Regions from separate parts of the Homo sapiens genome. Here regions 2, 3, 4 and 5 are each linked to region 1. The links come from fine-mapping of genetic effects on gene expression. A gene starts in region 1. Each other region holds a variant in brackets. All regions are shown on one strand. Distances are from middle to middle.

The links. PIP is the estimated chance that this variant, and not a neighbour inherited with it, causes the effect.
Region 2: its variant is the best candidate, but not a certain one, in a credible set for the expression of SIDT2 in whole blood (TOPMed, PIP 0.56).
Region 3: its variant is the best candidate, but not a certain one, in a credible set for the expression of SIDT2 in whole blood (TOPMed, PIP 0.56).
Region 4: its variant is the best candidate, but not a certain one, in a credible set for the expression of SIDT2 in activated naive CD4 T cells (Schmiedel 2018, PIP 0.52).
Region 5: its variant is the best candidate, but not a certain one, in a credible set for the expression of SIDT2 in testis (GTEx, PIP 0.61).

The regions. Positions count from the first base shown.
Region 1 is chr11:117,175,711-117,180,793 of GRCh38, reverse strand. It overlaps SIDT2 (SID1 transmembrane family member 2), which reads right to left and starts at 2,051. Exons shown (of 26, transcript NM_001040455.2): 1 at 1,348-2,051. The coding sequence starts at 1,530. It also overlaps a transcript of PAFAH1B2 not described here. RefSeq lists an enhancer at 693-762 and a silencer at 1,743-1,952.
Region 2 is chr11:117,102,977-117,108,078 of GRCh38, reverse strand. No RefSeq gene overlaps it. Among named protein-coding and RNA genes, the nearest start is that of SIK3, 7.1 kb to the right of the region's middle. The variant C/T (reference allele first, on the strand shown) is at 2,528.
Region 3 is chr11:116,988,830-116,993,931 of GRCh38, reverse strand. The region is part of intron 1 of SIK3 (SIK family kinase 3); the gene reads left to right. Among named protein-coding and RNA genes, the nearest start is that of SIK3, 110 kb to the left of the region's middle. The variant T/C (reference allele first, on the strand shown) is at 2,868.
Region 4 is chr11:117,205,684-117,210,785 of GRCh38, reverse strand. It overlaps TAGLN (transgelin), which reads right to left. Exons shown (of 5, transcript NM_003186.5): 5 at 3,322-5,102. PCSK7 (proprotein convertase subtilisin/kexin type 7) reads left to right here. Exons shown (of 17, transcript NM_004716.4): 13 at 1,733-1,889; 14 at 2,722-2,816; 15 at 3,626-3,719; 16 at 3,988-4,105; 17 at 4,430-5,102. The coding sequence ends at 4,789. Among named protein-coding and RNA genes, the nearest start is that of TAGLN, 8.9 kb to the right of the region's middle. RefSeq lists enhancers at 1,295-1,795, 1,796-2,296, 3,137-3,767, 3,768-4,398, 4,399-5,029. The variant G/A (reference allele first, on the strand shown) is at 3,124.
Region 5 is chr11:117,304,725-117,309,826 of GRCh38, reverse strand. The region is part of intron 1 of BACE1 (beta-secretase 1); the gene reads left to right. Among named protein-coding and RNA genes, the nearest start is that of BACE1, 9.0 kb to the left of the region's middle. The variant G/A (reference allele first, on the strand shown) is at 2,743.

The DNA of each region.
Region 1 (5,083 bases):
GAGGCCAAGGCAGGAGGATCATCTGAGGTCAGGAGTTTGAGACCAGCCTGGCCAACATGGTGAAGCCCCATCTCTACTAAAAATACAAAAATTAGCTGGGTATGGTGGCAGGCGCCTGTAATCTCAACTACTTGGGAGGCTGAGGCAGGAGAATCGCTTGAACCGGGAAGGCGGAGGTTGCAGTGAGCTGAGATCACAAAACTGCACTTCAGCCTGGGCAACAGAGTGAGACTGGTCTCAAAAAAAAAAAAAAAAAAAAAAAGATAAAGTGATCTTCACCCTTGGAGCTATGAAGGAACATATATAAACAATGGGAGCTTAAAGGAAAAATAAAACCAAATCGATCTTGGAATGCTTGTTATTGGGCTGCTGAAACCCAAGCCCTAGGGCAGCATTTCCCAAAAGAGTAAAAACCACAGCTCTCCAGTGCCTTTAGATATGGGAAAAAAGGAAGAAAGGACTCTAAGCAGAAAGAGATCAAACTTCAGAGAACCAGGCACTGGGGGCAGATCCTGGCCTGCCACAGAAACCAAACCACTCCCCGTTCTGAAAAAAAATCAGATTCCCCATTCTCAACTCCATTGCTTCTCAGTAAACGGCAGTCATGGAGAGAGAGCAAGAGACCCGGGCACGAGACCACACAGCCAGGTTGCAAGAATTCTCCCAATCTCAGCTCTGCCTGGGGTCTAGACTTCCCACACTAGCTGTGTCTATTTCAACTCAGGGACTCACAGCTGGTGAAGAAACCAAAGAGAAGTCAGGGTGAAGTGGATTTTTCACAGTGGACAAATTCCCCTTCTCTTCCCACCCAACTTGCAGTTGGCCTTATAAAACCTCTGTCACCCTCAATTTACAAGGCCAGCTGGCTCTCCCAGGCAGGAAGAGGGCTGGGAAGCCCTGCATTCATCTCCCTGGGGAGTCTGAGATGTAACTTGCCTGCACAGAGCTTTTCAGTTCTGGGCCAGTCTCATTCCCCTGAGGTTTTCTGGGCAAGCCCAGTAATAAGCCTGTTTCCTCTCCCACCGAGACCCCACAGAGCTGTCAGATTCTGGGGTTTAGGGTAGAGAGCAAGCCATGTGTGCTCAGACCACAACTGATGGAAGAATGGGGGCGGAAGAGAAGATGGGAATGAGCCAACTTCAAAAACTGCCCAGCTGGAGCTTCAGAGAAACATTGGTGGCAAAGGAAGGAGGACTGGTCAAGAGGCTCCAGTGTGGTTCTGGGAACTGGGAACCTAGCAGGACAGCTCGTTCCTGGGGCCTCCCAAAAGGGTAGCGGGGCGGCAGAATCGCCTAGCCCTCGTCGGCTTCCCCACTCGCCTCTGGCCCCTAAGCCCCCAGCCCTCACCCTGTTGCGGGTCACAGTATGGTTGAAGGTGTAGATGTTGACCAGCTCGCTGTTGACCTCGTCCACGTAGGTGCGCTCAAACTCGGCGTCTTTCTGCGAGACGTTCTTGGGCCCCAGAACCCCCAGATGGCTCTCGACCGAGGCCACCAAGAGCACCAAGAAGGGCAAGCCCAGAGCGAACATGGCCCCGGCAGGGCGGCAGTGGCAGCGGTGGTGGCGGCGGCGGCGGCGACAGGAGACAGGACACCTCCGGGACGGGTTGCGGCTGCGGCCGCAGCTTCCAGCATCTCACCAGGACCAGAACTTTAACCCCGGCCTGAGATTAGGAAATGTCCCCTCCCAAGAGCCCCGAAGAGGCTCCCAGGGTCCCCGCAGGGGAGGGGGCGGCCGGGAGGGGGCGGGGAGGGAGGGGATGCTGGCTACGGGAAGGGGTCCCAGCTCGCGAGGGGCTGAGTACGACCTGAGACCCTGGAGCCCCGGGCCAGGGCCGTGAGAAGGAGGGCGGCTGGTTGCCGGGAGCCTGGAGACGCCGGGAAAGGGGAGGGAGGAAGAGCCGGCGGCGGGGGCTGGCCGCGGAGGAAGGCGAGTCGCAGAGTGAGGGGCGTGATAGGTGGTAGCTACCCGACGCCGTGCTGGGCTGCGAGTTTTCCGAGGTGCGGGCCCTTTAAGGGCGGGCGGACGCGCCGTCCCGACGCACGAACACTGAAAAGTGAGCTGCGCCGCTGGGCGATAAACAGCAGGGCTGCTGGCCCGCCCGCTGACGTCAGGGGAAACTGACACAGATTTAAAGGACCAGGTCCCGCATTTGCCCTTAAAGGGGCTGCAGCTGTCTAGCTGAAGGGGAAAGCTTGCAATGCCTTCTCCAACTCCTACCCAACTCTCTCCCGTGATTTTCACCATCTCTGAAACTCACGTTGGAATAGGCAGATGTTTCTGTTAACAATCTCCAAGTGTTGGGTTCTTGCTGAACAACTCTTACATTTGCTCAAACATAAGGATTCCCCCACCCCCACCACCACCTTTACAACTAACATCGTCCAACCCTGGGCCACTTTTTCTCCGGGGATCTTAAAAAATGAAAAACTCGAAGGATTAGGAAACAGGACGGTGGCCCTACCGGCGGAGGGGAAACGGAGGCAGCACTGCAGGAGGAATCCCCATGCCTTTCCCACCTCCCTCTAGAGGGGCCACACAACTGCAGGGACGGCCTTCCGAGCTTTCCAAGCTTGCCGGGCTGTTTCCCCTCTTCTCTCAGAGACAGTTACAAAACTCATTGAAAGATACTGACCTTCAGTGTAAATTGGTGAAAACTTTTCTACAAAATATTTTGGCACTGTTTCAAGAAACTTAGAGAGCTTTATACCCTTTGATCCAGTAATTCCACTTCTGGACTCTATCCTAAGGAAATAGGAAGCACAGATAAAAATACCTGGGCAGCTACGCTTATCACTGTGATATTTATAATATAAAGCAAAAAGGAAATGACTTGGATATCCATAATGAGGGATTGGTTAAATGCACTATCATGAAGGCATCAAAAATGATGCTTAAGACTTCACAGGACACGTAAGCAGAGAATTCAGGATATGACACTAAATAAACAGTATATAGAGCCAGGTGCCGTGGCTCACACGTGTAATCCCAACACTTTGGGAGGCCAAGACAGGTAGATCACTTGAGGTCAGGAGTTCGAGACCAGCCATGGCCAACATGGTGAACCCCATCTCTACTATAAAAATACAAAATTAGTGGGGCGTGGTGACGCGTGCCTGTAATCCCAGCTACTGGGGAGGCTGAAGCAGGAGAATCGCTTAACTCTACCAGGCGGAGGTTGCAGTGAGCTGAGATCATGCTCCTGCACTCCAGCCTGGGCTGCAACAGAGCAAGACTCTGTCTCAAAAATAAATAAGTAAATAAAACCGTATATATTCCAAATGCATATAGACATGCATAGAAAAATAGAAAAAAATTGTACTAAACATTTAGCAATGTCTCCAGAAAGCAGGGCAAATTTTAAAAATAAAATTTAGCAGTAGTTATCTTTGAATTACAATTTTAAAAATAACACATATTGTATATCATTTTCCTTTAATTCTAAAAATATAGAGTAGTACCAAAAAATAAAAAATAATGGATTGTGAGTGGTTCTTAAATTTTATTTTTTATATTTAAAAAGATTTACAAATGTTCTACAATGTATATATATTTATATATTGCTTTTTTATCTGCCGGGGGGTGGAGACAGGGTCTCGCTCTGTTGCCCAGGTTGGAGTGCAGTGGCACAATCTCAGCTCATTGCAACCTCTGCCTCCTGGGTTCAAGCAATTCTCCTGCCTCAGTCTCCCGAGTAGCTGGGATTACAGGCCATGTGCCACCACGCCCAGCTAATTTTTGTATTTTTGGTAGAGACGGGGTTTCACCATATTGGTCAGGCTGGTCTCGAACTCCTGACCTCAGGTGATCCACCCACCTCAGTCTCCCAAAGTGCTGGGATTATAGGCATGAGCCACCATGCCTGGCCACATATATTGCATTTATAAGACAAATTAGACTTTTTTTTTTTTTTTTTTTTGAGATGGAGTCTCACTGTCACCCATGCTGGAGTACAGTGGTGTGATCTCAGCTCACTGCAATCTCCGCCTCCTGAGTTCAGGCGATGCTCCTGCCTCAGCCTCCCAAGTAGCTGGGACTACAGGCACCCGCCACCACACCCTGCTAATTTCTTGTATTTTTAGTAAAGCGGGGTTTCACCATATTGGTCAGGCTGATCTCGAACTCCTGACCTCGAGTGATCCACCCACCTAGGCTTCCCAAAGTGTTGGGATTACAGGCGTGAGCCACTGCGCCCGGCCAAATTAGACATGTTTAAAGGAAAAGAAATGTGGCCACCTCTGAAGCTGTCAGACATCCTAATAAAGCCACCCAGATCAGTGCCTTGTCAGAGTTCTCTCAGCTGGCAGGATTGCAGCAGTCTCAGCTCCCAGCCCTGCCCAACTATCTGGAGCCTTGTTCCAATGAAGACTATTTTACCTTATGATCAGTTAGTTATATTTACTCATTCCTGCAATAAATATTTAATAAGCATCCACGATGTGCCAGGTACTGTTGTAGTTATGCTGGGCAAATGGTGAGTGGAGGAATTAGTTTTGGCCCCTGTCCAAGCACAGCATACTTGAGGATGAAGACCAGAAGCAAGCTGCACCCCTTTTCCAAAGGGTTCACCAATTAGAAAGTCAGCTGGAAGATAACCTTATGGGTTTCCTTGGCCAACCCCTCATTATACAGATGAGGAAAGTGACGCTCAGAAAAACTTCAGCCCATTAGTACCTCACTAGACTCAAGTTTGCACCTTGGTCCAGTACTGTTTCCAGCACATCTAGGCGAATATGAATCAGAGAATCCTCAGGATGGCAAAAGAGGTTTCTTCATCATGAGCCCTCCATGCAGTCAGCTGCCAAGTTTGGAGAATCAGTGTAGGATTTCCTCAGTCCATCTGGACTTTTCTTTCATGGTAATCCTGCTCATCTTGCCAGTAAATAATCTGAAACATTAAGAAACACTCGTGATACATTGCCCAGGCTGGTCTTGAACTCCTGGCTTCAAGCGATCTGCCACAGCCTCTCGAGTAGCTGGATTACAGGCAAGCACCACTACTCTAAGTTGGCCTCATAACTTTGGGGCAAGATGTGACCCTACGCCTGTTTTAAACGCACATCCAGAGTCCTACTTCACACTT
Region 2 (5,102 bases), 73 kb after region 1:
TATTTGGAAAGACAACTGGCTTTGGAGATCAGCAGCCTTGGAATTACATCTCAGCTTCACCACTTACTGGCTGTAGGAGCCAATCATCAGATAGATAAAGTAAGTTGACCATCTATAAAGTGGGGATAACAACTACGTTATGAAATTTGAGAGTAAGAATGTTTTCATTGGACATGCAGAGTTGCATCACAAACACAAATATATCCACATTCCACAGATTGAACTATGCATGTTTAGTAAACCAAATCGAAACATTTAAACCACAACTTTCTTTTAACTCTGAAGTTAATCCATTTTCACAGCCCTAATTCTATTCTCAATCATTCCTAATCTTTTGAAAGTGATTTGGAAACCAGTATGTTATTGTTTACCTACTTTTGGAATTTAGAGGGAGGATGTACGAGGCTCTAATCTAGGTCCCTTTACATATTTATAAGTTAATTCTCCTAACGACCTCATTAGGTAGGAGTGATTTTCCAGAGAAGATAACAGACCTGGCTCTTAAATGTGCCAAGTGAATGAAATTATTTTTTAAATAAAAATAAATGGAAATAACTTCATCCTTAGTTTTTTTTCTTAAGCAGAGTTTCCCTCTTGTTGCCCAGGCTGGAGTGCAATGGTGCAATCTCGGCTCACTGCAACCTCCACCTCCCCGGTTCAAGCAATTCTCCTGCCTCAGCCTCTCCAGTAGCTGGAATTACAGGCACGCATCACCACGCCTGGCTAATTTTTTGTATTTTTACTAGAGATGGGGTTTCACCATGTTGGCCAGGCTGGTCTTGAATTCCTGACCTCAGGTGATCCACCTGCCTCAGCCTCCCGAAGTGCTGGGATTACAAATGTGAGCCACCACACCCAACCAAAAGACAAATTTTTTTTTAAGACAAGTGTGGTGGTATATGCCTACAGTCCCAGCTACTCAGGAGGCTGAGGTGGGAAGATAGCTTGAGCCTAGGAGTTGGAGGCTTCAGGGAGTTATGATTGCACCACTGCACTCCAGCCTGGGCAACAGAGCAAGACTCCGTCTCAAAAAAAAAAAAAAAAAAAGGCAGGCGTGGTGGCTCTAGCCTGTAATCCTAGCACTTTGGGAGGCCAAGGCGGGTGGATCATTTGAGGTCAGGAGTTTGAGACCAGCCTGACTAACATGGTGAAAACCACACCTGTCTCTACTAAAAATACAAAAATTAGCTGGGTGTGGTGGTGCACACCTGTGATCCCAGCTACTTGGGAGGCTGAGGCAGGAGAATCACTTGAACTCCGGAGGTGGAGGGTGCAGTGAACTGAGATCATGTCACTGCACTCCAGCCTGGGTGATAGAGCCAGATTCCGTCTCAAAACATACACACACAAACACACACAGCATGGACTGCTACTTAAGCCTAAAACACAATTGTAAGCCTACCCCACTGTACTTTCTTTTTTTTTTTTTTTTGAGGCGGAGTCTCACTCTTTCGCCCAGGCTGGAGTGCAGTGGTGCCATCTCGGCTCACTGCAGCCTCTGCCTCCCGGGTTCAAGCTATTCTCCTGCCTCAGCCTCCTGAGTAGCTGGGATTACAGGCGTGTGCCACCCCGCCTGGCTAATTTTTATATTTTTAGTACAGACGGGTTTCACCATGTTGGTCAGGCTGATCTCAAACTCCGGACCTTGTGATCAGCTCTCCTCGGCCTCCCAAAGTGCTGGGTTTACAGGCGTGAGCCACCGCGCCTGGCCCCCACTGTACTTTGTATTTGGCCATAAAGAAATCTAGCTTCCTGAAGCCAGCTTCCATTCGGATTCCAGCTTTCTGGCTCCTATACGGGTTTGTGGTTTTCAATGGCCTACAGTTTAAATAGAAAGGACTAGAAAGCCTTCCTTAGCAGAAAAGAAAAGGGAGTATTCGTTACGCATCATGTAGTTTAGGACTTCAACCAGAAGGTGTCTCTGCAGCCAAGGGATAGGAATCTGGCCTCAAGAAGTAGAAGACTGGATTTTCTAGTTTGAGAAAAATTGTGGCAGAAATGAAGCAAACAAAGGTAAGTCAGCTACCTACAGAAACCAATCCCAATAGTATAAATTGTTCTTAGCCAACAGCTGAAAAGGCTGGTAGAAAACTTAAGCAAAACCCACTTTTTTTTTTTTTTTTTTTGAGACAGGGTTTCACTTTGCTGCCCAGGCTGGAGTGCAGTGGTGTGATCACGGCTCACAGCAGCTTTGACCTCCTGGACTCAAGTGATTCTCCCACCTTAGCCTCCCAAGTAGCTGGGCCACAGGCATGCACCACCATGCCTGGCTATTTTTTTTTTTTTACTTATTTTTGAGATGGAGTCTTGCTCTGTTGCCCAGGCTGGAGTGCAGTGGGGTGGCGTGATCTCGGCTCACTGCAAACTCCACCTCCCGGGTTCAAGCAATTCTCCTGCCTCAGCCTCCCGAGTAGCTGGGATTACAGGCGCCCACCACCACTCCTGGCTAATTTTTTGTATTTTTAGTAGAGACGGGGTTTCACCGTGTTAGCCAGGATGGTCTCATCTCCTGACCTCGTGATCCGCC[C/T]GCCGTGGCCTCCCAAAGTGCTGGGATTACAGGTGTGAGCCACCGCGCCCAGCCTCCTGGCTAATTTTTTTTTTTTTTTTGAGACGGAGTCTCGCTCTGTCCCCCAGGCTGGAGTGCAGTGGCACGATCTTGGCTCACTGCAAGCTCCACCTCCCGGCTTCAGGCCATTCTCCTGCCTCAGCCTCCCGCGTAGCTGGGATACAGGCGCTGGCTGCCACGCCCGGCTAATTTTTTTGTAGTTTTAGTAGAGATGGGGTTTCACCGTGTTAGCCAGGATGATCTTGATCTCCTGACCTCGTGATCCGCCCGCCTCAGCCTCCCAAGTGCTGAGATTACAGGCGTGAACCACCGTGCCCAGCCCCTCCTGGCTAATTTTTAATTTTTTTTGTAGAGATGGGGGTTTTGCTATGTTGCCCAGGCTGGTCTTGAACTCCTGGGCTCATGCCGTCGTCTCACCTCAGTCTCACAGAGTGTTGGGATTACAGGAGTGAGCCACTGTGCCTGGCTCAAAACCGACCCTTAATGCAAGGAAGCTGCTTTAAAAGCAGAGCATCTGTCCTGTCACCTGAAACACACCAGGCTGTGTGAAGGTGAGCTTTGAAAACTGAGAGGCAGTTCCCAAGGCAGGTGCTGCAGAAGAGACGGCTCTTCCGTGAGAATAGATGTGAAGATGAAGGGAAAGAAGAAAAATGCAGTTTTGTAAGTGCAGAGCTAGGGAAATAAGGAAAACTTTCACCCTAGGTAGACCTTTGAAGTATGCCTTCATTTTCGGTGAAACATGGTGACTTTCTAGAATCTAGGTACACTTTGATATTCAAGGGAAAGAAAAGGATCCAAATATGTCAATATCTTAATCAATATTTGTTGAATATCATATTTTTTACTTAGGAGAAATAAGTAAATTATAAGACAAAAATTAGTAGTATAAATATTAGAGAGTTGATTACAGGGTAACAAGGGATCCTCCACCTTAAGGAACACACTTTTATTAAAAATGTTGTCCTGGCCAGGTGTGGTGGCTCACGCCTGTAATCCCAGCACTTTAGGAGGCCGAGGTGGGTGGATCACCTGAGGTCGGGAGTTCCAGACCAGCCTGGCCAATATGGTGAAACTCTGTCTCCACTAAAAATACAAAAATTAACTGGGCGTGGTGACGGGTGCCTATAATCCCAGCTACTTGGGACTTGGGAGGCTGAGGCAGGAGAATTGCTTGAACCAAGGATGTGCAGGTTGCAGTGAGCCGAGACTGCACCGCTATACTCCAGTCTGGGTGACAGAGCGTGACTCCATCTCAAAAAAAAAAAAAAAAAGTTGTCCTAGATGATTTTTTTTCTTTACTAAATGTATTTTGCCATTGATTTTTCTTATAAAACCAAAGGTATATTTGCCCAAGGAAGACATTGATCCCAAATGATAATACAGTCACATCTAAGGTTGAAGAAGACCTTTTGAAAATTATACTTGGCCAGTTCAGTGGCTCACACCTGTAATCGCAACACTTTGGGAAGCTGAGGCAGAAGGATTGTTTGAGACCAATAATTTGAGACTGGCCTGGGCAACATGGCAAGACCCTGTCTGTATAAAAACATTAAAAGATTAGCCAGGGCCGGGCGCGGTGGCTCACGCCTGTAATCCCAGCACTTTGGGAGGCCGAGACGGGCGGATCACGAGGTCAGGAGATCGAGACCATCTTGGCTAACACGGTGAAACCCCGTTTCTACTAAAAATACAAAAAATTAGCCGGGCGTAGTGGCGGGCGCCTGTAGTCCCAGCTACTTGGGAGGCTGAGGCAGGAGAATGGCGTGAACCCGGGAGGCGGAGCTTGCAGTGAGCCGAGATCGCGCCACCGCACTCCAACCTGGGAGACACAGTGAGACTCCGTCTCAAAAAAAAAAAAAAAAAAAGATTAGCCAGGCATGGTGGTGTATACATGTAGTCCCAGCTACTCGGGAGGCTGAGGCAGGAGGATCACTTGAGCCCAAGAAGTTGAGGCTGCAGTGACCTATGATAGCGCCACTGCACTCCAGCCTGAAGATGTTTTGGATTATTCAAAGGATAATTAATAATAATCTAAAAATGTTTCAACCATATCCTAGAACATATGCAAAGTAATAAGGGCAATTTTTATGTTTTGCATCACAGCTTGAATGGCTACATTAAAAAGAACAATGTGGGCAGACTGAACAGAAAGTCGTTGACTGAAAGCTTACTTAGCTTCCCTTATACAACCTACCTGAGATATTTTCTAGCAGGAGACTAAGTAGTTATCCTTGGCTGCTCAGACCTGCTTCGGATGCCCTGGGGAAATTGGGATGTGACCAGGTGGATCTGAGAAAGACGAGGAAAAAGGCAAAAGCCACACAGCTGAGGTGGTGATGCAGAACACAGTCTTTTTATTATTATTATTATTATTTGTGACAGAGTCTTGCTCGGTCACCCAGGCTGGAGTGCAGTGGTATGATCTCAGCTCACTGCAACCTCTGCCTCCCAGGTTTAAGCCATTCTTCTGCCTCAGCCTCCTGAGTAGCTGGGACTACAGGTGCCCACCACCATGCCTGGCTAATTTTTGTATTTT
Region 3 (5,102 bases), 190 kb after region 1:
ACTCACTCATGGTTGCTCCTCCTGATGTCTGTGTGCCACACAGTTCGGAAAAGGCACTTGCTTGGCTGTCACGCTGTAAGTTCCCTTTGTCATTTGTGACAATTGGTCTCTTTGCTGTACATCTTTTGGGATGAAGGATTGAGCTCTTGTAAAAGCATTTCAGAGGTTTTTCAGCTAATGATTTTTCCGCTCATTCTTTACTGTTTGGTTTCCTAGGCAACCCATCCTCCCCTTGCACCCTGCTGACGTCTGTTCAGCCCCTCTTCCTCTCCACTACCCCTCCCATTACTCAAGTTGTTTTTTCATTGCTGCTTTAGGATTGCACTAAAGGAATATACATGTTTTCCTAAATATCTGCTCCTCTATACTTTTTAGAATATATTAGAAGGATGGGAAGAAAAAAAATCATTTTTAGAAGCTAAGTAACCTGTATTTTTAGGTCAGTTATAACAGGGTTTCATCCATATAAGGCTAAATTTATTCTGTTGTTTCTAGGTTGGTTTTCTTTTTTAAAGTTAAACAATAATAAAGAAATTGTTGTCCATTTAAACCAGGAATTCCATAATTAAGCTATTTTAGGAATGTAAGGTGTTGTATAGGAAAAAACAGTCTGAAAATGGTGGGCATAGTTGCGTTTCTAGATGGTTATGCTGTGATTTATTTTTTTAAAAAATCAGTTGTGTCTGTTAAAAGCATTTCTGTTACTGTGGGGAGGGGTTTTTAAAGTTTTAAAAATCTAGCTTTTGGGTGAGTGCAGTGGCTCATGCCAGTAATCCCACCACTTTGGGAGGCTGATGTGGGAGGATCACCTCAGGCCAGGAGTTTGAGACCCATCTGGGCAACATAGTGAGACTCTGTTTATTAAAATAAAAATAAAAGTAGAAATAAAATAAAATAAAAATCTGTTTAGTTGTTGTTCACATTTGGTCCTTTAGAGATACTTTTTTGAGACAGAATCTCACTCTGTCACCCAGGCTGGAGAGCAGTGGCATGATCACGGCTCACTGCAGCCTCTATCTCCTGGACTTAAGTGACCCTCCCACCTCAGCCTCCCAAATAGCTGGGACTACAGGTGCATGGCACTATGTCTGGCTAATTTTTAAATTTTTCTGTAGAGATGAGGTCCCTCCATGTTGCCTAGGCTGGTCTTGAACTTTTGGGCTCAAGAGTCCTCCTGCCTTGGCTCCCCGAGGTGCTGGGATTATTATAGTCATGAGCTACTGCTCCTGACCTAGTGATAACTTTTTGAATTCCAATTCCTTGATCCTTTAGCATCCTAGGCAAAGACAACCATTTCTGCTGGGTAAAGCACAGTGAAAAGCCCTGCTTCTCTGTATACAAATGAAACAGATTGTACAATTAATATGTATTGGGTGCTGCATGGTCCATCCTAACAGTAGTGCTAATTGCCATATCATTTATTTTTACATTTGGAAGTATTTTACTTTGGCCTCAATGTAATTTTGTTTTTTTAATGCTGTAGAGTGTATGGGATATAGGTAAGGAGTGGATAAGAAAGGAAACAATAGAATCAGAAATAGTAAGAATTGCTATATAAATGCCTTTCCCTGTAAATGCACACAAATATATGAGGTGTTTTTTTTTGGGGGGGGGGGTCTTGCTCTGTTGCCCAGGCTGGAGTGCATTGGTAGGATCTTAGCTCACTGCAGCCTCCACCTCCTGGGTTCAAGCAATTCTCTTGCCTCAGCCTCCTGAGTAGCTGGGATTATAGGCGCCCACCACCACGCCTGGCTAATTTTTTGTATTTTTAGTAAAAATGAGGTTTCACCATGTTGGCCAAGCTGGTCTCGAACTCCTGACCTCAAGTGTTCTGCCCGCTTTGGCCTCCGAAAGTGCTGAGATTCCAGGTATGAGCCACCATGCCCGGCCACGAGTTTTTTGTATGTATGTCTAAATACGTAGAAAGACAAGATTTACCCCCTTTTTTGGTGTCTGTAATAAATTTAGTGATATACGTGTATGGGTGTATATGTATATAGATATGTATGCTATGAGTTAGAAATGAAAAACCTGCCATAAAAGCAAGAGGAAGGAGGAGTTAATTTTGCCTGAAGATGTCAGAGAAGGCTGCATTGAAAAAATTTGCCATAGACCTGGTGATAGGAGATTGAATGGGCCTTACTAGCTGTGTATAGTGGTTTGTACCAAAAAGTATGGGGATAGGAGGGGAAAGTGGCTGGGAATATTGGAAAATCTAGTTGAAAGATAGGTTGAAGGCCGATTGTGAAATAGTTTCACTTACTTTATCATTTAAGTAATAGGTTGGTTAGACCTTTTAGATCAGATCAGTATTTTGAGAGTATCTCTAATAGTATAGAATTATTTGTACTTCTTGACTGAAACTATATGTTAAATAATGAATTTGTAACTTAGTTATTAGAGTGTTCAAATTATACCTGTTTCTCTCCCTTCCCTCAATTTTTAGAAAGCATTCTCTAATGAGGCAGGGGTTTTTGTTTGTTTTGAGACAGCGCCTTGCTCTATTGCCCATACTGGAGCGCAGTGGCATGATCTCGACTCACTGCAACCTTCGCCTCCCGGGTTCAAGTGATTCTCATGCCTCAGCCTCCCTTGTAGGTGAGATTACGGGCGTGTGCCACCATGCCTGGTTAATTTTTGTATTTTTGATAGAGACGGGGTTTTGCCATGTTGGCCAGCTGGTCTCAAACTCCTGGCCACCTTGGATCCGCCCACCTTGGCCTCCCAAAGTGCTGGGGTTACAGGCATGAGCCACCATGACCAGCCAAGGCAGGTTACTTTTATATTGGTTAAAAGAGTGCCTGATATTAAATCCTTAGTCTCCCACTAACCAGCTCTCTCTCTGACCTTGGATGAGCCTTAAACTT[T/C]GGTTTAATTCATTTGTAAAACAAGCATAATAATGCCTACCTGAAAGAACTGTTGTGAGGATTTGATTGAACGGGATAATATGTAAAGCACAGCTCTTGACACACTGTAAATGTAGCTGAAAAATAGTAGTGATTATTTTGTGGTAACAGCTTTCATTGTAGAAGAAAATTAATGGAATGTGAAGGATTAATGATTTTGGGAGGTGGAGGGGAGGAGACCTTGTTAAGTAGATTAATTAGGAAGTTATTGGTTTGTCCAAACAGTGCTTTTAGGTGACAAGGGAATTCAGTGTGGAAGAGGAGGTTTGGTAGGAGAAGAAAATATAATCAGTTTAGTTGTAGATGGGTTGAGTTTAAGGTACCCAAGGACACAAAGGTAATACTGTGGAGGTGGCTGTTGGAAATACGAAGCCTGGAGGTACGAATGTGGAAGTTATTGCTGTCTGGTTGGAGATACTTGTGTCTGGGAAGAGTGATCGAGTGAGTAGTGGCCTATTAATGTTTTCTTTTTTTAAAAAATTTACTTTCAATATACTGCCAATAAAGTAATTTGCACTGTTATACTAAGGTATTAGACCACGTATTCTGAGTTCAGATTTGTTGCTTGACTCGTTAATGTATGTAGGTTATACCCAGTTTTGGTAAGCCTCCTGACCTTTGGCCCCATTCACAGCATTATCTCTATCTCTCAAAGGGAAAAAGAAGTTCATTCTTTGAACTGGGGAGTGCTCTGATGTTGGCAGGTCTACTCCTCCTCAGGTCTAGACACTCTTGGCCTCCACAGTGGTTTTATTCAGGAAAGTTCTCACCTTTGAATTGTAGACTTAGTGCAGACTTGCTGGTAGTTGGCTAGGCGGGATCACAACAGTGATTGGTATTGGTAAGTACATGTATTGCTGCCAAGAAGTTGCATAGTTCATGTGTTCAGTCATAGCCTTTTCTTTATATGACGACCCCGCTGAAATACAGAATGGCCTGCTGCCTTCTCACAGAAGGTCTACTGTTCCAAGCTTATTTTTTTCTGAGTGAGAAGAAAAGGTCTTTTGCCACTGTTTTCAGACTGAAATTTAAATTTCAGCTGCCTTGGATCCTATATAATAAAAGATTGAGACACAGAAATTGTTCTATTAGACTTGAAATTTCAATTGCTTTTACTTCCCAGTTTGTAGTAGTGTTTGAACCTAAAATCCTATGTGTGTTTTTAGTTACCTTTTCAAGTTAAACTTTCAGAAACTATCTGCTTAACTTAAAAATTTACTCTTGTTAATTGCCCAACCACATCTTACTTCATGTGTCAAAATCTGCCTGATATTTTTAATTTGGAAGTCCACAGTAGTGGGAAGTCATAGGAACTCCCAGTCAGGGTATTCACAGTAACTACTCACAGTAATAGGAACTCACAGTCAAGTCTAATTTTTCATTTTAATTTTTCCAATCCCTTCTTTACTTCTAGTATACTAATTGAAAAAAAAAAACTTGGGTTGCCTTTAGTTTCAATTTATAATTTTTATTAGGATTTTACTGATACTGTATCTTTTTGGTACTGGAGGTCTCAGAGGACTGACCTGGTTCTACTTGTTTGCTCTTGGGATTTAGAACGATAGTTTCTATTGTGTTGAGCCAGCAACATTTTGCTTATTTTCAAGAGGCAGAGTGGCAGAGTACTAAATTGCAAGGTTGTGCAGACCTTAAATAAGTGTATGGTGAGCTATAAAGTTACAATGTTAAATTAGTTTCTGGCTGGCCCACATTGTTTCCAAAGTTGACTTTGCATTTTAAAAGACCTTACTGATTTAAAAAGCGAATAGAGAACTGCTTGGAAACACATATCATCTGAGAGACATTCGAACATGCGGGGAAAAAAAAAAGTGGAAGGAAAGGTGCTGCTGGCTGGGCATCATAGACTAGAAAGCTGCATTTAAAGTTTAAACTGCTTGGGTAAGACATGTTTTCCTGGTTTATCCTCATGTTTTTTTCCATCTGTGTTCTCTTGCCATTATTACCACCAAATACAGGAGAATACTCCTTTACTTATTGTAGTCTTATTTGGGAGACAGACTAGAGTGTGGATTATGTAGGGACAGAAAGGGAGACTTGAGGGTTTTTTTTTGTTTTGTTTTGTTTTTTCTTCCAGTATTTAGGTTCATTGATGTACAGGGCATATGTTGTCTTCTTTTAGATTTTTCAGTGAAGTTTTGTACTCCTCTCCATAAAACTCTCACACATTTATATTTA
Region 4 (5,102 bases), 30 kb before region 1:
TTTTTTATTTTTTTGTAAAGATGATGTCTCCCAGGCTGAAGTTATCCTCCACCATGCCTGGAGTGAGCCACCATGCCTGGCCTGGAATAAATTAATGGAAGAAAGGGTGCTTTAAAAAGAATTGTATTCGGCCGGGTGCAGTGGCTCACGCCTGTAATCCCAGCACTTTCGGAGGCTGAGGCGGGTGGATCATAAGGTCAAGAGATTGAGACCATCCTGGCCAACATGGTGAAACCCCATCTCTACTAAAAATACAAAAATTAGGTGGCCATGGTGGCGTGCACCTGTAGTCCTAGCTACTTGGGAAGCTGAGGCAGGAGAATCGCTTGAACCCAGAAGGCAGAGGTTGCAGTGAGCCAAGATCATGCCACTGCACTCCAGCCTGGCAACAGAGAGAGACTCTGTCTCAAAAAAAAAAAAAAAAAGAATCGTTCTCATTACAGCCTAATTTCTTAATAGTCCCCAGTTGAGTCTTCCTCTTCAGTAGTTTTTTGTTTTTGTTTTTGTTTTAATAATTGTAGATTTACAGGAGGTTTCAAAGAAATGTACAAGAGAAGTCCCGTGCACCCTTCTCCCAATCTTAATGTTTCACACAATTAAAGTATAATATCAAAACCAAGAAATTGACATTGGTACAATCCATAGAGCTTATTTGGAGTTCACCAGATACACATGCTGTCAATATTTGTGTATGCGCGTGTGTAGCTGTATGCAATTGTATCACATGTAGCCTTGCATAACTACCACCACAACCAAGATCCAGAACAATTCCATTATCACAAGACTCCTTTGTGTTACCCCTTTCTGGCCACACCCATCCCCTCCCCTGTCCCTGGCCCCTGGCACCCATTTATCTGTTATGTATCACTGCAGGTACTTCAATTAACATCACCTAAATGGAATTGTGTGCTACGCATCCTTTTTCTTTTTTTTTTTTTCTTTGAGACAGGGTCTTGTTCTGTTGCCCAGGCTGGAGTGTGGTAGCATGAGCATGGCTCACTGCAATCTCCACCTCCCAGGCTCAAGCGATCCTCCCACCTCACCCTCCCCGGTAGTGGGACCACAGGTGCACACCACCACACCTGGCTATATGCTTCTTTTGAGATTGCTTTTTTCACTCACATAATTTGCTTGAAATTTATCCACCAGCATTTTTTAAAAATTAACTGTGCATCATCTTCAGTGAGATGTGTGCATTTCGTCTTTGTTCATGCCTTTTCCACTGCCTAGAATGCCCTCTACCAACCCTGTCTACCGATCTGTATTCATTTCCTTCAGTGTGTCTCACTGCTGTGTGCCTAAACCCATCTGACTTATTTCTCTTCCCTTATCAATTATGTATATTTCCCATACCATATCATTTTCCACTTGCAGGTAGGAGGCAGGGACCACGCCCATCTTATCTTTATATTCCCAGCATCTAGTACAGTGCCTGAAATGGAGGAGGTACCCAGTAAATAATGTTTTGGATGAATGAATGATTGAAGTTGCTCTGCTGGATTCTTATATTGTGTCTTGGGTATGTGTCGTCTTCCCAACTGCACTCGAAGCTACGTTGTAAACTTGAGAGCAGCAGCTCCATTCCATTTACTAGTATAGGCGAGGTCCCAGTTAGGGTTGCCGTAGATGTTTGTATGTGGCTTCAGTGAGCGTGTGTCTTTGTGTACGTGGGGGTGAAGTGAAGGCGTGTTTGTGGGCTGGTTTCCCAGCTGCCCAGCCTGACTTTCTACAGTCAGCAGGATGGACCTGGAGATGTCAGGGCTGAAGACCCTGGAGCATGTGGCAGTGACAGTCTCCATCACTCACCCACGGCGCGGCAGCTTGGAGCTGAAGCTGTTCTGCCCCAGTGGCATGATGTCCCTCATCGGCGCCCCCCGCAGCATGGACTCGTATGTACACCCGCCCGAGGCCTGAGCAACCTTTTCAGCAAGGGCCTTTCCAGGGAAAAGAAATGGAAGAAGTGGATCCTGGCACTGTCCTAAACTACTGTGGCACTGGCTATCCCTGGCGGCTGGAAGCCTTTCGTCACATACCTTCTTCAAGCGCTAGGCCCTGCACCTCACATACATGTTCTCTAATCCTTCTAAGAACCCCCTAGATTAGACTTTGTAACCTCCTTTTACAAATGAGGAAACTGGCTGGGTGTGGTGGCTCACACCTGTAATCCCAGCACTTTGGGAGGTCAAGGCAGGAGAATCACTTGAACTCAGGAGTTCAAGACCAGCCTGGGCAACAAAGTGAGACCCTGTCTCTACAAAAAATTTAAAGATTAGCTGAGCATGGTGGTACATGCCTGTAGTCCCAGCTACTCAGGAGACTGAGGTGGGAGGATCACTTGAACCCAGGAAGTCAAGGCTGCAGTGAGCTGTGATCATGCCACTGCACTCCAGCTTGGATAACAGAGTGAGACCCTGTCTCCAAAAAAAAAAAGAAAGAAAAAGAAAACAAGTCATGGAGCTAGTAAGTGCCCAAGAGAACAAGAATAAACCTAGATCCGTGGGACTCCAAGCCTGTGCGCGCTCCATGCTTGCTTTTTCCACCACACCACGTTAACACAATTTCCTCCTTCCATGAGACCCCAGGGGAAAGGGGCACCTGAGAAGCCCTCGTGGCACCCTCCCAGGTTGTTTCCACGGCTACTACAGTAAGAAAGTGTTGCTGGGGGAAGGTCAGCTCTCTGGCCCACGCCTTCCACCTGTTTCTGCTGTGTTCTTTCCTCAGGGATCCCAACGGCTTCAATGACTGGACCTTCTCCACTGTGCGATGCTGGGGGGAGAGAGCCCGAGGGACCTACAGGCTTGTCATCAGGGATGTCGGTGAGTCTCGTGCCCTCACACCAGGCCCTACCTTTCCTGCTTGTTATCTGGTCCCTCTGCATCTCAGAGTCCCCACAGAAAGTGTCCCGTGTGCAATATATAGGGTTGCCATTGGACCAAGAGAGTTGATGCCAAGAGTGTGCCCATCCGTGAAATGGGCATTGCTCTCTGCAACTGTTCATTTATACTACCTCTCATATTCCCTGGAGGAGTGACCCATCCATCTTTCCTCAGGATAGCAACAAAAAGTCCTTGTCGAAACCACATTTCAAGTCCTTTTACGTATAACCATCCTTCGGCCAGCCCC[G/A]GTAGGCAGGTAAGGGCAGGACTCATTTCACCATTTTTTTTAAACTGGCCCAGAGGTTTGAGGTGACTTGTGGAAGGTCACCATATCAGTGAAGGCCACAATATCCATGAATTGTGAATATCTTTAGTATCAGCCTATAGACTGGAAATTGAGCTCCACCCTCCCATCCTCCAGTCAGTTAGGTATTCTCTAGGCCAGTGGTTTTCAAAGCTTTCTTTAATTTGGTGGAAAGACATTTTTTTCTAATCCCAGCTGAACCCCCAAAATACGGGAGAGAAAAGCAAGACTCTGCTTTGGAGTACAGCCTTTCAACCCTTTCCATCCCTAAGGGCACCCAGTGAGGCCCTTCTGCAGAACCTGGGGTCAGTGGGACACAGTGAGGCAGCTCCTGGAGCAGACCATGTGGCCTGAGCCCCTTTGGGTGGCAGGGCGGGCAGGGCCTCTGCTGTCTGGCATGGCTGACAGAGGGGCGTGGCTCACGAGCTGCCCCTTGCTGCCCTAGGGGATGAGTCATTCCAGGTCGGCATCCTCCGGCAATGGCAGCTGACCCTATATGGCTCTGTGTGGAGTGCAGTAGACATCAGGGACAGACAAAGGTGGGTAAAGCCGCATGTGTCAGAGGGAAGGCCAGTCACAGGGGAAGGGCCGCCTAGGGAGCCCATCGCCCTCTGAACCCCAGCTGTGCTTCCCAGTTCCAGCGTCAAGCCGGTAGATGGAGCCCCGGGCTGGGAACTCACAGTCTGGGCCTCTCCTTTTTGCTGTGGGGCTTCCCTGTCTTCACCTGTAAGGCAGGAAAATGGGTGAGGGCAGATGGTATAGGAACCATAGTCAGTGGGGCATCCTCACCTCTTTTCTTCTCCACAGGCTGTTAGAGAGTGCCATGAGTGGAAAATACCTGCACGATGACTTCGCCCTGCCCTGCCCACCGGGGCTGAAAATTCCTGAGGAAGATGGTTACACCATCACCCCCAACACCCTCAAGGTACTAGGGCCAAGACTCAAGCTGCGGGTAGATGGGACTGTCCTGTCTGGGGGATGGAGTTCTTAGTGTGTTTCTCAGGGTGACCTGCGGGGTGAAGGACTGGGAAGACCTGGGTCCCAGCAGTGGTTTCATAGCATTGCTCCTACCCTGCTAGCCTAACTCTTACAGGACAGGCCTTGTCGGGGGAGGGGGCAGAGGGAACAGTTTGGGTGAAAAAGGCAGTCCCTAGAAGGAAAAAGACTTTCTGAGCTCATTGTCCTGGGCTGAGAAAGGCTGTAGGCTTCGGGAAACAGTGCCTCACGTAGGTGCTTGCCTCGGCCCCAGACCCTGGTGCTGGTAGGCTGTTTCACCGTCTTCTGGACTGTTTACTACATGCTGGAAGTATATTTGAGCCAGAGGAATGTGGCTTCCAATCAAGTTTGTAGGAGTGGACCCTGCCACTGGCCCCATCGGAGCCGGAAAGCCAAGGAGGAAGGGACAGAGCTAGAATCAGTGCCACTTTGCAGCAGCAAGGATCCAGACGAAGTGGAAACAGAGAGCAGGGGCCCTCCCACCACCTCTGACCTCCTTGCCCCAGACCTGCTGGAGCAAGGGGACTGGAGCCTGTCCCAGAACAAGAGCGCCCTGGACTGCCCTCATCAGCACCTAGACGTACCGCACGGGAAGGAGGAGCAGATCTGCTGACCTCAGGGCCTGACAGTGTGGGACAGGCTCTTCTTTCCCAAAATTAGGGAGCTCTTGACAGAAAGCAGTTCTGATGCTTACATCTGGAATCTGAGGCATCCTCTGACTCCACTCAAAGAGGGTGAGGGCCTTCTTAAGATACAAATGGTGGAGGATTGCTGCCAGAGAAGTCTGGTCAGAGCCACAGGGTCTGCCTCCAGCCAAACGGGAGCTTTTGGTGAGAAGGTGTTGGACAGGGGATTGGCGCCCCCCTTTGGTTTGGCCTCCATCCTCATCTCTCTTGGGCCAAGCCAGCTGCCTAGGTCCCCCAAGC
Region 5 (5,102 bases), 130 kb before region 1:
TTGGTGATAGTCAATTCAGTTTAACAGATATTTGTTGAGTACTTGCCTACTGTGTGTAGAAGAGAAAAATAATGCCATAGTCTTAGCCCTTGGACAGCTCACAATCTGATGTGAGACATAGACATAATACCTAAATATTACACAAAACCAAATGCATTTGGTACAAATAGTGAAACAGTGGATCTTGGAAGTGCACAGAGAGAAGCAGCTACTTCTGACATGGTATTAGGCACAGCTTGCTGGAAAAGGAGGGTTTTGTTTTGTTTTTGTTTTTGAGAGGGAGTCTCGCCCAGGGATCCACCCGCCTCAGCCTCCCAAAGTGCTGGGATTATAGGCGTGAGCCACCGCGCCCAGCCAAAACGGAGGTATTTGAAAGAGGAGAAAGCTTTGCAATATGGAGAGTGGTGAGGAGGAGCACTTCATGAAGAAAAGCGTGAACTGTGGTGAGAAGCCAGAAGGCATGGTGGGGATGCCATGGGGCTGACAGGACTTTGGGTTTTATTCTGCAAACAGTAAGGAATCCTTGTAGGTATACGAGAAGAGGGATGATATCGTCTAATTTTAGTTCCAGGAAAACAGCTTCAGTGTGCAGAATAACTTGGAGAGTCTAGCATCATGACTCTAGACATGCAAACAAGGATCTCAGGATACGGGGGCCTGAAAGAGGATGGTGGCAGTGAGGGTAGAAAGGAGGAATCAGCATTCATCCATCGTTTAACCAGTTATTCTCTGCGCTTGATGAGATGTATGGGGTGAGAGAGAGGGAAGAGGAGATGATGGCTTTATTTAACCTCTCTGACTTTTTGTCAGGGAACAAAGCAACAGGGGAAAGCTTTTGAAGCACAATATAGTTTTTTTGTTTGTTTGTTTGTTTTGAGATGGAGTTTCGCTGTGTCACCCAGGCTGGAGTGCAGTGGCGCGATCTCAGCTCACTGCAACCTCCACCTCCTGGTTCAAGTGATTCTCCTGCCTCAGCTTCTCAAGTAGCTGGGATTACAGGTGCCCGCCACCACCCCCAGCTATTTTTTTTGGTATTTTTAGTAGAGATGGGGGTTTCACCATGTTGGCCAGGCTGGTTTCAAACTCCTGACCTCAAGTGACCGCCCGCCTCAGCCTCCCAAAGTCTTAGGATTACAGGTATGAGCCACCGCACCCAGCCAGGAAGTACAATATAGTTTACCAAAGTTTATGTTTATTATTCTGCTTTAATTATAAGGGATAGGTATTAGCATATCTATTTCAGGGATAAGGAAACTGAGACCCAGAGAGACTAAGTGTCTTGTCCAAAGTGATTCTGTTAAGAAGAACAGAGTAGGGGTTCAAATACCGGGGCCTTTCCTTCCTGTGTTCTACGATCTGGGACATGCCTTTGAGATGCTAGTGGGTCATCCTCGTGGAAGTATTCAGCCACCAGCTGACAGTGGGAATCTGGAGAGAAGTTAGAACTGGACAGGCAGACAGGACTCATCCACAGAGAGGCCAAGTTAAAAAATAGACTTGTTCTTTGAGGGAACAGAGAGGGAAAGGAGAAAAATGATTAGGAAAAGAATATTAGGTATAGACAAGGGAGCAAGAGAAAATGATCAGAGCAGTAGAAAACTATGAGGGCTCAGAGTCTCAGAAACCAAGAAGGACCAGGTGGTTTTTCTTTTTTTCCTCTCCTTCCCTGCTTGGCAGGGTTCTGTAAAGGGACCTCAGCGGTGAGGGAGAAGGCTGGGAGCAGTCAACACTCTAGATCCCCGCCCTTCCTGTCACCAAGCCATCCCCATCCCCCCGCCCCAAATCTCCTGAGCATCCCAGGATAACTTTGCTTTTATTGTTTTTATACAGTGGACTTCTGGGTTATATTTTTTTAAAAAAGAGTTTTTGCAATAAAAAGGTTGAAAACCATCGAGCTCAAAGAACCACCCTCCAAATTAGACAAAGCCAGCAAGACCCCGGCTCCATAAGTTGCCTACCCAGTCCCTGCCACCACAACTGGCTTTCCTGGATTGGGCCTCGGGTTGCACACAAGCCCTTGCTGGAGCACTCATCCTGTCATTCCAAACCTCTCCTCTACTCCCCAGACCAGTAAAGAAGAGTTTAGCTGGGAGTGAGGGGGCATTGAGAAAGACTGTGCTCTCTCTAAAAGCACTAAGGTGGAAGGTCAGGAACCCTTCTTGGGCCTCTCCAATAAAGGGCTGGGCAGAAAATTCCAGTTGAAAATCCAGAAAGAGGCCAGGCACAGTGGCTCACACCTGTAATCCCAGCACTTTGGGAGGCCGAGGCAGGCAGATCACCTGAGGTCAGGAGTTCAAGACCAGCATGGCCAACGTGGTGAAACCCTGTCTCTACCAAAAATACAAAAATTAGCTGGGCATGGTGGCACGTGCCTGTAATCCCAGCTAATCAGGAGGCTGAGGCAGGAGAATCGCTTGAACCCAGGAGGCGGAGGTTGCAGTGAGCCAACATCATGCCACTGCACTCCAGCCTGGGCGACAGGGGGAAGACTCCATCTCAAAAAAAGAAAATCCAGGAAGAGAAACACCTCCCAGGGAAGCCCCCATACCTAATGACTAACTTCTGTCTCTCCTGGGAGCCTTCTCTTTCAGGTGCCTGGGCAGGGGAGAGTTCTGGGAAGGAACCAGAACATTTTCTGAGTTCTGGAGCTGCCCTGAGATTCTCCTGGCAGGATGCGACAGCACCTGAGTACATCCTTAGTACCGCAGCCTTGGGTACTATAGCCAGGTGTTTCCCAAAATA[G/A]GAGAGCTGGGCTGTGCTGGGGAGAATGAGGAAATCAGCAGAACTGGGGGGATTCTGACGTGGGGGAGCTGGGACTCCTAGGTCCTTTTCCTCAAAGCAAACTGGCCAAGCTCTGCCTCCTCCCATGCCAACTTATCCTCTGTCACCATATTTCCTGAGCTGCTGTCACTCTGGGGCCACCCTCTCTGCTGCGCACTGTAGGCTGGGTGTCCTCTTGCTTGGTCTTTCAAGGTCAGTGAATCTCATCACTTAGCCTTTTTTCTTTTTTTTTCTTGAGACAGGGTCTCACTCTGTTGCCCAGGCTGGAGTGCGGTGGCGCGATCTCGGCTCCCTGCAACCTCCACCTCCTGGGTTCAAGCAATTCTCCAGCGTCGGCCTGCCAAGTAGCTAGGACTACGGGCACGCACAACCACACCCGGCTAATTTATATATATATTTTGGTAGAGACGGGGTTTCACTATGTGGCCAGAATGGTCTCAAACTCCTTGACCTCAAGTGATCCGCCCACCTCAGCCTCCCAAAGTGCTGGGACTACAGGCGTGAGTCACTGTGCCTGGCCCTACCACTTACTCTTTTCCAAGGCCTGTGGAGGTTTTGACAGGTAGGACAAGGAGTGAGTTCTAGCATCTCCCAATGGCTTGAATAAACAAGCCCATGTGCTGAGCGTGACACAGGTGCCATGGTCAGCTTCATTTTCAACTGAGGACAGAGCAAGAGAAGATTCAAGCCACTGTAACCTGTGGGTGGGACAAGGTTAAATAACAGGAAGGACTTACTGTCTGACCATGAAAAACAGGTGGCGAATAGCTGCTGTGATACCTTGTGGAGCATGGGTTTTCCAGGTGGGTTCCGCAGAGGCTAAAGGTGCTGAAGAGATGCCTCAAGAGCCAGCACAGGCAGGGGAGGGAAGCAGAGGAAATCAAACCTCCCCTTCAAACAGAACACCTCTGTCTTTTTCTCTCTTGTACACTAGGATCCTGCATACAATTGGAAAAGGGGAAAAGGATTCCGCTGCTTTATTTTTTATTTTTATTTATTTATTTATTTTTGAGACGGAGTCTCACTCTGTCGCCCAGGCTGGAGTGCAGTGGTGCGATCTGGGCTCACTGCAAGCTCCGCCTCCTGGGTTCACGCCATTCTCCTGCTTCAGCCTCCCAAGTAGCTGGGACTACAGGCGCCTGCCATCACGCCCGGCTAATTTTTTGTATTTTTTAGTGGAGACGGGGTTTCACCGTGTTAGCCAGGATGGTCTCGATCTCCTGACTTTGTGATCCGTCCGCCTCGGCCTCCCAAAGTGCTGGGATTACAGGCGTGAGCCACTGCGCGCGGCTGATTCTGCTGCTTTAGAAAAAAAAAAGTTTGAAAATTACTGTCATAAACTCTTGGACCATCGACATCCATCATTCTATTGGAGTAGGAGGCACTGGCAAATATTAGTTGAGCCGGGTTACAGGCTGCGGAGAAATGGGGCATCCCATCCAAAGGGGGAAAGGTATACTAGATAAGGTTTGGGGCGACCCAGCCACATTGGGACTCCTTGAAAAACCAGCCAGAGGTGGGGTAAGTGGCGCCAGGGAGCCTGCTTGCTCCCAGGTACCAATGGCCAGCTACAGCCAGGAGAGGCAAGTGGAAGGCAGAGGAACTAGCTGGGAAAAGGAGTCCATTTGCACAGGGCTGGCTGATTTGTTCAAGGTGGGAGGAACCTGGACAGGACCCAGTCGCTGGACTCTGAGACAGGAGCTGTGTGCTCTGTTGGCCATAAGCCCCTCCCCGCTGCTGACTTTAGGCTCCTCTTGTCCTTCCTTGCCCCCTTTTCTCAGCCTTGGGTAAGCTCAGGTCTGGAAATCACTTAGGAAAAGCAGATGAAGCTGACTCACAAGGTTCTGGGACTAAGGAGGCCTGGAGTCACTATAACTGCTCTAAGAACCACAGGACCCTGGGTGGATATTCACCAACATGGTGAAACCCCGTCTGTACTAAAAATGCAAAAATTAGCTGGGCGTAGTGGCGGGTGCCTGTAATCCCAGCTACTCGGGAGGCTGAGGCAGGAGCCAAGATTGCACCACTGCACTACAGCCTGGGTGACAGAGTGAGAACCCACCTCAAAAAAAAAAAAAAAAGAATAGGAAGAGTCCATAGGGTCATAGGAATTAACTGCAGGGAATGAGGCAGTTGCTGTCAATTAAAAAAAAAATCATTACGGAGCATCTACTCAGGGCTAGGTAACAATTAGGTAATAAGCAATACAAATGCTCCCTACCCTTGGTGGAGCTCATAGTCTGTGGGACAGGCAGACATTAAATACATGATTAAAAGTGTGAGTGGTAGACAAAGAAGCACAGGTGCTACTGAGGATTTGC